3 linked regions of the Homo sapiens genome follow. The protein of the gene in region 3 interacts with the protein of the main gene of each other region in a biochemical or structural test. Each region holds a gene or a part of one and is shown on either strand. Other genes may lie near its edges.

The links.
Region 1: the proteins of GNAI2 (region 3) and GPSM2 form a complex in vitro, tested with the Homo sapiens proteins (one study listed by BioGRID).
Region 2: the proteins of GNAI2 (region 3) and LTB4R form a complex in vitro, tested with the Homo sapiens proteins (one study listed by BioGRID).

The regions. Positions count from the first base shown.
Region 1 is NC_000001.11:108,874,875-108,878,619, reverse strand, and holds the start of GPSM2 (G-protein-signaling modulator 2), read right to left. Parts: upstream 1,636-3,745; 5' UTR 1,392-1,635; intron 1,090-1,391; exon of another isoform or gene 846-1,089; intron 1-845. UniProt on the Homo sapiens protein: Plays an important role in mitotic spindle pole organization via its interaction with NUMA1. Required for cortical dynein-dynactin complex recruitment during metaphase. Plays a role in metaphase spindle orientation.
Region 2 is NC_000014.9:24,314,425-24,318,169, reverse strand, and holds the end of LTB4R (leukotriene B4 receptor 1), read right to left. Parts: exon of another isoform or gene 3,150-3,745; intron 2,534-3,149; 5' UTR 2,519-2,533; coding exon 1,460-2,518; 3' UTR 134-1,459; downstream 1-133. UniProt on the Homo sapiens protein: Receptor for extracellular ATP > UTP and ADP. The activity of this receptor is mediated by G proteins which activate a phosphatidylinositol-calcium second messenger system.
Region 3 is NC_000003.12:50,246,189-50,249,933, reverse strand, and holds part of GNAI2 (guanine nucleotide-binding protein G(i) subunit alpha-2), read right to left. Parts: intron 3,025-3,745; exon of another isoform or gene 2,866-3,024; coding exon of another isoform or gene 2,859-2,865; intron 1-2,858. UniProt on the Homo sapiens protein: Guanine nucleotide-binding proteins (G proteins) are involved as modulators or transducers in various transmembrane signaling systems.

The sequences.
Region 1 (3,745 bases), on a different chromosome or scaffold from region 3:
TCTAAAGATAGATCTTAGAAATATTTTATGTTTATGAAAAGGTCATTTTTAAAACTACTATATCTTATCACTGTTTTAATTAGTCTAGTAAGCAAGTCTCAGATCTATATTAAAATATGTTTGTAACACCGAATATCTGATTTAAGAATGTAAGAAAATACAATTAAACTGCTTATCTGGCCAGAGAGGATTTTGGAGACATGCCTCTACAACAACATCACACAACTTTTTACTTTGAAACCGCTCCAATACTTAAATTATAAGTAATAGCCTGGGAAATAGCTTGCGAAAACGACTCCGTGGTAGTTGTAAAGAGAAGTAGGTGTGAGACCACCCCTAATCCCTGAGGCCCCCCTCTCCTTACACACACCATGTCAACCAACAGTGATCTACCCTTTTTAATGTTGTTTATTCACTTCTAAACAATCAACTAAAGCTGCTCCTGAATAGTGAGAACCCAATCAAAAGTGGTATTTATCAGAAGCAATCACACCGGCTATTATCAGGCCAGAAATCTTCGGTACACCCTTCTAAAGTGGCAGCTTGAAAACTCAGCTCTGTTGGTCCTGCTGACTTCCAACACACCCCACGAACGCTCCAATGCAAACCCGATAGAAAGGAAAGCCAAGAACCTACTTCGTTTAATTCTACGGTGTGGTTAAATTATGCATTAAGGCCAATAAAATTTCCATCCTTACTCGTTTTCTTTAACAGAGTTCAAATGCTACTAGTTCAAATGCTCTAACTGGTTACTATTAAAACAAGGAAATTACAGATTTTTTTTTATTCGAAGGTATTCTATAGATTTCAGGAAAGAGTTTTCTTAACGTTTTATGTTTACTTACTCTTTTTGCAGCAACTACCAATTTCTATGGTAAATCGACCAGTTGGTGCCCAAAAGTTCACTAATTTAAGCACGGTCAAGGCAGGTATTTGCCATAAACTGCCTGGTTTAGGTAGGACGCGCCCGACTCCAAGTGATTGCAATCAGCCTCGGAATGAATTCCACGGGGATTCGGGCTTTGATTCACAATTTGTTACTCACATTCAGAGTGGTAAGAAGTCGCTGGACTCTAGTATAGTTTTTATCTTAAAAAAAAAAAAAGACTCAGGAGTGAGGCTCTTAACGCTTTACTCTCATTTGAAGACCTTCCGACAAAAAAGCAGCAACTCCTCAAGCCGAGTTTCTGGTTTCTTGAGCATCGACGCCGCGTCCCCGCAGCGCCCACAGGTCCCGCAAGCCCCCAGCCCGCCTCCTGCCCAAAACAAAGGACGTCACCCCCAGACCTCTGGACACAGAAGCCCCACACGCACGCACACGCACCCCTCCCTGTCACCTCCCTCCGAGAGCCCCTCAAACGCCTCAGAACCCGCGTCGCGGAAGCGCTCACCTCCCGCGGGCGGGCGGGTCCCGGGTACGCGGTGAAGGTGCAGCGGCGGCCGCCTCGGGCGACAGACGGGTGGTCACGGCCCCTCCCCAAGGCAGGGGCACCGCAGGAGGCCGGCGCGCCCCCTGCTCCCGCCCCCGGCAGGTCACGTGGGCCAGAGCTCGTAGCGCCCCTCGCTTTCCCGGAGCGTCCCTCCGCCACCTAGGGGTCCCGCCGCTCCGCCGGTCTCAACACCGCCCTCCTCTGCGCCTGCGCCCCGGCTCCAGGCGCTCTCATTCAAACCGACAACGCCCCGCGTCTTTCGGACCGGCCAATGGCGGGCGGCGCAGCGGGGCGGGGCGGGGCGCTGGTTGCCCCCCTCTTCGCAGTCCTGGGGAACCGTCTGCGTGTCAAGGTGACAGGGGGCTTGGGAGCTTGGTCCTCCTCTGCTCCGGGACGTGTCCTCAACCCTCAGACTGAAGTTTCTTTCCTGTCCTCTTCTTTCTTCTTCAGACACTAAAAAGTAGAGCAATAAATATTGTCTAGAGTTGGCCGGGCGCTGTGACGGACGGCTATAATCCCAGCACTTTGGGAGGCCGAGGCGGGCGGATCACCTGAGGTCGGGAGTTCGAGACCAGCCTGACCAACATGGAGAAACCCCGTCTCTACTAAAAATACAAAATTAGCTGGGAGTGGTGGCGCATGCCTTTAATCCCAGCTACTCAGGAGGCTGAGGCAGGAGAATCGCTTGAATCCGGGAGGCGGAGGTTGCCGTGAGTGGAGATCGCACCATTGCACTCCAGCCTGGGCAACAAGAGCGAAATTCCATCTCAAAAACAAAACAAAACAAACAAACAAAAAACATCGTACAGAGTTCAGATAGAGGCTGGCCTAGATCCCTTTAAAAAAGGAGCGCAAAACCAGCGCCGCCTTTTTGGAAGACTTGGTGCTGCGCTACAGAATGAGTGTCCCAAGCGGCAGATGCGGGATATAGAAGAAAAAGAGGCCTCTGTGGAAGGAACAGAGGGACCGTGTGAAAGTCTGAACAAGGCAGCCTCAGTTCTTGAGGCTGTGCCCAACCCTGGCGTTTCCAGCTGTTGGAAAAGCAAACTTCTGTTGACTACAGAATCGCTGGTTCCCAGGAAAATTGGGTGGCAGTTTTACTCAGTTTCACTCAGTTTCAGCGCCTACATTCTAAAGACACTGGGAAGAATAAGTTTTATTTCCATTCACCTCTCCTCCATGTCAAGGTGACCCCAAAATAGTAGTCACCTTATAGTTTGTTCTTCACAAAATACCGGCCGGGCGCGGTGGTTCACATCTGTAATACCAGCAACTTTGGGAGGCCGAGGCGGGGGGATCACCTGAGTTGGAGACCAGCCTGGTCAAAATGGTGAAACCCCGTCTCTACTAAAAATACAAAAATTAGCCGTGCCTGGTGGTGGGCGCCTGCAATCCCAGCTATTCGGGAGGCTGAGGCAGGAGAATTGCTTGAACCCAGGAGGCGGAGGTTGCAGTGAGCCGAGATCGCGCCACTGCACTCCAGCCTCGGCGACAGAGCGAGACTCCGTCTCAAACAACAACAAAAACCAAAATACCAAGACCAGAGTCTCTCTGGGGTAAAGCATCTGATGAATTTACTTAGATTATTTTTCAAATAGATATTTCTCTTCTGAAATGAAGTTTAAATGTTTCTACAGGGTAAAGGCTATGTTAAAGAAAACTCCGGGTTCAGTATCTCCGTGAATGATGGCCATAACCAGTGATCCAAGCAACATTTCCCATTAGGTGCATGTTATGGCAAATTGCTTAAAGGAACAGCTTTATCATCAAACTAGACCTGGGTTTGAGTTCCAATTCTGCTACTTACTTGCTGATTGACCTTGAATGAGTTATCTTCTTTAGTCTTAGTTTCCCCACCTGTAAAACATAATAAAGCCTCTTCTAATAAGGGTTGCTATGATGCTTCTGTGAGGTAAGGTTGTTAAGTGGTTGACATAGGGCCTGACACATAGAAACTGCTCCATACTTGATACCTATTATCGTTACAACCATCTTTAATATCAGGTTCTTGTAAATAACAATGGAATTGGTTGGCTGTACTGTTTCAGAGGTAGGTATTAATTCCTTCTTAATTATAAATTCTTTTAAAGTATGGATACTGTGAAAGCCACAAAGGAAATTTTATATATATAGAGAGAGAGACAGGACCTCCCTCTGTCACCCAGGCTGGAGATCACTGCACAGCAGCCTCAACCTCCCAGGGCCAAGTGATCCTCCGATCTCACCCCTCCCCTACACCCCAGTAGCTGGGACCACAGGAGCTTGACACTATGTCTGGCTATTTTTATTTTTTCAGTAGAGAAAAGGTCTCACTA
Region 2 (3,745 bases), on a different chromosome or scaffold from region 3:
AGAACTCCCTCAGCCTCTCTGCCAACTTGATTATAGTATTTTGTACACCTTGGAAGCATAAAGAATTTAGCCACATGACTCAAAACAAAAATTTGCCCTTTCCTGCCCCCTACTCAAAAATACCGGAAGAATCTCCAGGGAAATGTCATTTGAACTTTATTAATTCGACAAACACTAAATAAGTACCTATTATGTGCTCACCATACAGAATGGGCGAGAGGACTGGGAAATACTCCGTTAGGTCCCTCCCAGTTTCAGCTGCTGTTCTCAAATTGGTGCACCATACCTTCCAGTAAGGATCTGTAGACAGCTTGGGGATCTCCTCTTCTTAGGTCCATCCAACATCCCTTTGCTTCCTTCTGCATCCTTCTGCACAGATGCTGGTATATGGGTCTTGAGATATTGATGACTCATTCTCACTGGCTCATACTTTGGGGTCCATGGGAGTATGTCAAACCTTGACATACTAGATTTGTTGCGGATGTTGCATGTGGATATTTGGTTTCCCTCTCTTACTTGCTCTTTTGTTTTTTTATGAGAAAGATCCAAAAAGTACACTGCTGCCACTGTTGTTGCCATCTTCCTAAAACCTTGTCAGAACAGAGTTGGACCAAGGTTCTCTAAAACAACAGTCATCTCTAGGAAATAATGACTCATCCCTCTCACTTTTGGGAATCTTTGTTTCCTGGGGCCCTCAGCCCCACCCTGTGCCAGGGTGTGTTGTGGAGGTTAGCAGATGCTGATATGCAAAATTCTAAGGGATAAGATCTAATGACTTAGTCCTCAAGTCTGGCCTCTTTGTGAAATGGAGGGAAGGAAGGCATCCCCTAGAACATCTCCTATGGAGAGGACAAAGATTATTGGCAGGAAGTTGGAGTCATTCTAACAAGGAGACTTATCACAGGCTTCAAGGAAGATATTTCACAGCAGTGCTGTTTTCTCAGAAGGTCCCGGGTCACAGAACCTGGAGTGATAAGCCCACATGGGTGGTCTTCCTAGACAAGCTGCTTTAGGAGTCTGTAGACTGCGTTTTGCTAAGTATTATCTGCAGACTATGTACTCGGAATCATCTGGGATGGGGGAAGTCTATGTTTCTTTGTGTCCCTTCCAAAATTGTAAATCATGGGGAACTAAAGGACGTGACTCTCAACTACCGAGAGGGGCCCCACCAGGGCGCCCACGAGCACCCCGATACCCACAGCACATGTACCCCACTCACAAGGTTGACCAAATTTCAGACTTCAGTTTTAATGGTTAAAGCTGCCTGTGGGAGCCAGGCTGGAGCACGCTCTCACTCGGCCCTCACTTTGCTCCACCTCTCCCTCTTCTTCCACTCCACTCCCGCCTCCCACGCTCCCACGCCCTCCACGCCCTCCACGCCCCTGCTCCTCCTCCAGGTACTGAACTGGCTCAGAGCTAGCATTCTGCCAGGAGGAAAGTGCGCCTCCTTCCACCAGGCCTAGTTCAGTTCGTTTAACTTGAGAGGGCTGGAGGCAGTGAGGCTCTCGGAAGGGCCGGGCTCCAGAGCGGCGGGGCCGCTCCTAGCGGTCTGGCCCAGGCTGCCCCCGCGGCGCGTGCTGGACGCCTCGGAGCCCGTGCCCTCCAGCAGCTTGGCGACGAAGCCCACGCCCGCCGAGCGCAGCAGGCCGCCGCCGGCGCACGCGTACAGCACGGGGTTCACGCTGCTGCTCAGGAAGGCGAGTGCGATGAGCACGTTGCGGGCCAGGCTCAGCCGCTTCCCCACGAGCCCTAACCCGGCGGCCTGGCCGGCCAGCGCGCGGCCCGCCTCAGCCAGGTTCACCACGTGGTAGGGCAGCCAGAAGGCGGCGAAGGTCAGGATGATGAGCACCACCAGGCGGCCGGTGCGGCGGCTGCGGCGGAAGCGCCGGGCCTGTAGCCGACGCCCTATGTCCGAGTAGCTGGCCACCACAGCCAGGAAGGGCAGCAGGAAGCCCGTGACAGCCTCGAAGATTAGATGGAAGGCCCGGTGCCCTTCGCTGGGGTACCGCGGGAAGCACAGGCTCATGTTCGTTTTCCAGGGCACTACTGTGCGGTACGCGAGGACGGGTGTGGCCAGCAGAAAGGACAACACCCAGATGCCTGCCAGCACCCGCCGGGCCATCGCCTTGGTGCGTAGCTTCTGGGACACAAAGGGGCGGGCCACCGCCAGTGAGCGGTCTAGACTCATGGCCGTGATAAGCAGGACGCTGGCGTACATGCTGACTCCGCAGACATAGTGACACAGGCGGCAACCAGCCAGTCCAAAACTCCAGGTGCCTTGGGCCAGGAAGTGAAGGAAAAAGGGAGCAGTGAGCAATACGGCCAGGTCGGCCAGGGCCAGGTTCAGCACCATCAGGGCAGTGACAGAGCGCTTCTGCATCCTTTTCAGGATACTCCACACCACAAAGCTGTTGCCGGGAAGCCCCACAGCCAGCGCCACTGACAGCAGGATGATAGCCAGCAGAGAGATGAACTCTACACCTAGTGAGGGGGGTGCTGCAGAAGATGTAGTGTTCATGGCCGTCGGGAGGACCTGGAGAGTGAGGGCGGACACACGCATGAGAGTAGAGGACCAAGGGTTTCCTGACGCCATGGACACACCTAGGCTGAGAACTCTAGTCTATCTCCAGGGTCAGCAGCATCAGAGGTCCCCCTGAAATATACTGCCCCCATCGCTGCAGACTGACAACTTAAAGGGATCTGGTTGAGTACAAAGACTAGTTTCCTAACTGGGTCATGCGGCCCCTTCCTGTCCACAGACCCAATTGCAAAATATACAGTGACCACAGCAGCAGCAGCATTTCCAGACCTTTTCAGTCTCCTCCCCTTAGGAGACCCTAAAGCCCAGAACCAAACAGAGTTCCTACCAATGCTGCACCCCTTGAAAGGCCAGTCTTTTTGCCCCCTGCCAGGCCCTCAGCCCCTCAATCCCATTAACTTTCCCAATCACCTGCCTACTGTCCCCAGAGATGCCCAGGGTCAACCAGGAATAACAGGGAGGGGAGGAGTTTAGTGGACAAGTGACAAGGACAAAGCCTCCCAACTTTTTACGCTGGTCAGGCTTTCTTTGGAGATTCCTTTGCACCTTCTTTCATGGCTGCACACTGTCCCACCACCACCACAACCACGGCCGCTCCCAGGAAACTTACTTACAAGCTTTGGCAGGAACTGGTTGGAAGCTGATGCCAATCCCAGGGTCAGGGCAGGGTGGTGTAGCCTATCCCTGGATCTGTCCCACTGCCAAAGGCCTGGCCCCAGGTCTAGGTGCTGTTTGCTAAATCAGCCAGAGAGGAAGTACCACAGAGCAGAGGACAGGGAAGACGCATCTTCCTGAGGGTGGGGCTGAAACCCCTACCCACTCCCTTCACTAGGAGGGGGGATAGTCTGTTTTCCAGGGCAACCCAGAAGGCAGGAGGACTCCTTAGAGGTGGGGCCAGATGAGAAGAGACCAGGAAGGAGCAGTGAGAGAGGAAAGAGGGGTGTGGGGAGTGAGAAGGCTGGGTGTGGCCTCAAGATGCAGGTCTAGACTGGATAATTGAACAAAGTAGTGAATGGTATCATATAGGAGAAGGAGGTATGGTAGCCAGAGAAGGGAAATGGGCTCAGATTGGAGGCTACAATGCTGATATCTTTTTGTTTTGTTTTGCTTTGTTTTAAGATTAATAGGAAGTGTAGGTTGGAGCTGTGACTAGGTCCTGGGTCTGGGTTTGGGTTAGATAACATCATGATTTAAAGAGGGCACATC
Region 3 (3,745 bases):
TGCAGTGCTCAACAAGCGGCAGCAGGCATTGGGACATGGTGGCAGGCCTTGCCAAGGCCCCTGCCCACCTTCAGCCCCCTACGCCAGAGACCACCCTGAGGGGAAAGGCCTGAGCCCTCCTCACAAATGCCATCAGGCGCCTGCAATCACTGAGCTTCTGACTGTCCCAGGCCTGCTTTCCAGGATGAGGGGAGGGGATCTGGGGAGATGGGGAGTGACAGCTAGTTGGGTATGAAGTTTATTTTTGAGGGTGGTGATTATGTTCTGGAATTAGATAGCAGTGATGGTTGCACAATCTTGTGGACATACAAATGTGCAGGCCCTGGGAAGGCTGGGGCGCTGTGGCTGGGGCAGCAATCCCCTCTATTGCTTTAGCCCCTGGGCACTACAGGGGCCGGGCCCAGTATCTTCACTGGGGTGTGTACCGGGATATATACCAGCACCACTCCCTCCCCATTGGGCTGTGCATGGCAAAGGGGCAGCCAGGATCTGCATACCAACACTCCTCCACCTGCCAATGAGGACATGGGGAAAGGTCCCAGGAAAGCCTCACAGCGATGCCTGAACACTTAAGGCCCATCCCCCTGGGGCTCAAAGCACCCACTGGGGCAGGGAGGGCAGCAGTGGCTACCTGACTGTCTTCCCCACTGGCTCCTCCAGAGCAGGAGGAAGAACCAGGAGCCAGTCACAGCCAGGATGGGGGGAACTGCAGGAGCAGAGGCCAAGGATGCGAAGTCATGGGTCCCCATGCAGTCCCGAGCCAGGCGAGCTCAGACTCAGCAGGGAAGCTACCCAGGGCATGGGGGACCTGAGGTCTAGGGTGAAAGCTTCCCCATCTTGTGTGACTTCGGGACTCCTGCCCACTTGAGGCATCAGTTTCCCTATCTGGCCACTGAGAGTGAAGAGGGGGTCTGGCCTTTTGCCCACTCTTAGTAGGTGATGTGGGCCGCTTCGTGACCCTGCCCAGGGACGAGGGTGCAAACTTGCTTTGCATCTGATTTTCCTAGCAGCAGCTAGACCTGGTAGACATGAGGTAGGCAGCACAGAGCCAGTCACACTAGGAGCCAGGATATCTGCTCCCTGCCCCAGCCAGGGAGGGCCCACTTCCCTGTCCCCTTCAAGTTTCATTTTCCCCTCCTAAGGCCTCTTAAATGTTAAGAGAACATTCTCTATCCCAAGCAGGGGTCACTGAAAAAAGAGTTCCACTTGACAGGTAAGCAAATCAAGGTCATGGAGCCCCTATCCCTAGACTCAGGCTGGTCTCTTTGTCTTTCCAGCAGCTGTGACTCAGGCGGGAAGTAGTGAGTGGCAGGACAAGGGTGTGGTGCTGGCAGCCAGGCAGGAAGCAGGGGGAACAACGGGACAGAGGCAGGGGCACAGCCCAGGAGCAGCTCCAGCAGAGAAGGGGGACAGGAGCAGAGGTGGGTGGAGCCCCAGGATGGCATCTGGGTGGAATGGGTGGGGTGAAGAGCTCTCGGGCAGCCCACAGGCTAAGTGCCCTGGCAGCTGTGGGGTAGTAGCTTCACTCTCCCCATCTCTGGCTGGGTCCTCTTTCCATCAGGACCTGAGGGATGCCCCCTACCAGATAAGCTGGCAAGAGGCTTATCTGTGAGTTTTGCACACACCCAGCTCCCCTCGCACCTGCCTCTCAGAGGGGTGGCTGAGTCCAGATTTTTTTTTTGAAACACAGTCTCGCTCTGTTGCTCAGGCTGGAGTGCAATAGCATGATCTTGGCTCACTGCAACCTTTGCCTCCCGGTTCAACCTCTGCCTCCCGGTTCAAGCAATTCTCCTGCCTCAGCCTCCCCAGTAGCTGGGACTACAGGCATGTGCCACCACGCCCGGCTAATTTTTGTATTTTTAGTAGAGACAGGGTTTCACCATGTTGGCCAGGCTGGTCTCGAACTCCTGACCTCAAGTGATCCACCTGCTTTGGCCTCCCAAAGTGCTGGGATTACAGGCGTGAGCCACCGCGTCCAGCCTGAGTCCAGATTTCTGCAAAGATGCTGGGTAGGGGAACTGAGGCAATAGAAGGTGGCATGAATCAGCCCCTCCTGCCCGCAGAGGGCCCCACCAAGTGCTCTGTCCCCAGCTGGGTAAGACCAGAGAGGCCTGCAGAGGTTCCCTGGGGTGGCCTTGGCATTCCCACTGAGTCACACCTCTTCCCACCAAGGAAGAAACCTCTGCAGCCTTTGCCCTGTGGCGCAGTTAGGGCCCACAGCAGGTAGGCAGTAATCATAGTGATGTGCTGGGTGGTGGCAGCTGCTCTGCACTAGAACATCTGCTTCCACTTTGGGAGTGCTGAGCCCCAGAGGAGGGAACCGATGAGAGAAGGGAGACAGTACCACTCCACCTGCGTGAACAAGACCAGCAGGGCCCCTGCAGCAGGAGAGACAGGCCCACAGGTCTTGTCACTTGATGCTTAGTCCAGGCCCCAGCATTCAAGTCACAGCATCTGTTCATCTTGGACCCTCTAACTCCTTAATAGGCTTTGATCTGCTGGGAGGCTGGGACTTGCTACTATCCTTTCTGGCTTCAGTTTCCCCTGGGCAGAGCTGTCAAGCCTCAAGCAGCCAGCCAGCCTGCCTCCCATTTTCAGATCCTCTCCCAGAAGGAGGTCCAGACTTGCCACAGCCCTGATGTCCACTCTGATCCTTCCTGAGATCCTCAAGAGCTTCAGCTCCTTTCCTGCCCTTTCTCTGGCACCTCATCTGTGAAATGGGACAACGCTGTCTCCTTCTGAGAGATGGGTAAGGATTAAATGCAAAGCTCTTCTCACAGTGTGGGGCACATGTGAGCATTCAGGTAAAAGTTATCACTATTTATCTACCCTTTGAAAGAGTACAGATTTCCCCAAACCTCTCATTTCCTGCAACCTGCAGAGAAGACTGCTGTGGTCATCTCATTTGAAGGAAAGCTTCTGAAGATTTTCAGATAAAGAGCAGATGAAGAGCAATGGACAGCGGCTAACAGGCTGATTCAGAGCTGTGGTGGTTCCCTGCTGGGACTCAGCATAACCTGGGACAGGAGTCAGAGCTACTGGCTCCTCTGTTGGCTTTCCGCTGTGTCGTCACTTCCCTTCAGTATAACCCGGCACTCCTACACAGCTGGGGCCTCCTTCCTGCCCAGGAGCCTCACTGCTGACATTGCTCACTGGCTGCACACACCCAGAAAGCCAGGCACACCTCCCTGGAGAGAACCCCCATACTGGTGGGCTCCGTGGGAACACGTGGGGCCAGGAAGAGCAGCCAGCTGACGTGGCAGGCCCGAGGGCAGAGATTCTCAGAAGCAGCAGCGGCTGGGACCACAGGGTAGACTTGGGCAGCGGCCCAGCTCAAACCCACAACACCAGGCCCGCCCACACTGCCACAACTCCCCAGCCTATCCCAGTGGGATATGGTGGGGCAGGTGGGGGTAGCCCTGAGCCCACCACAAAGGCAGCCCGGACACCACCTCCTTCTCTTATCCCAGGAAGGTGCCACATCTCCAGCTCAGCCTGTGGTTCTCAGATCCCGTGCACCCCCACGTCCCCTGCAGTCCTAGGGACCCATGCCCCGCCACCACCAGGGGGCGCCCGGCAGCCGGAGACACTGTGGAAGGAAGTGGGGGCTGGGCAGCACTGGGGAGCGTTTTGTTTCAGAAAAGCAGCCTCAGCCAGGGGCGACTGGGGAAGGTGTCCCACCCACCAGCCCGTCCCTGGGAAGCCCCCAGCCTGCAGAGACTCGGCACACACAGAAACCATGGCA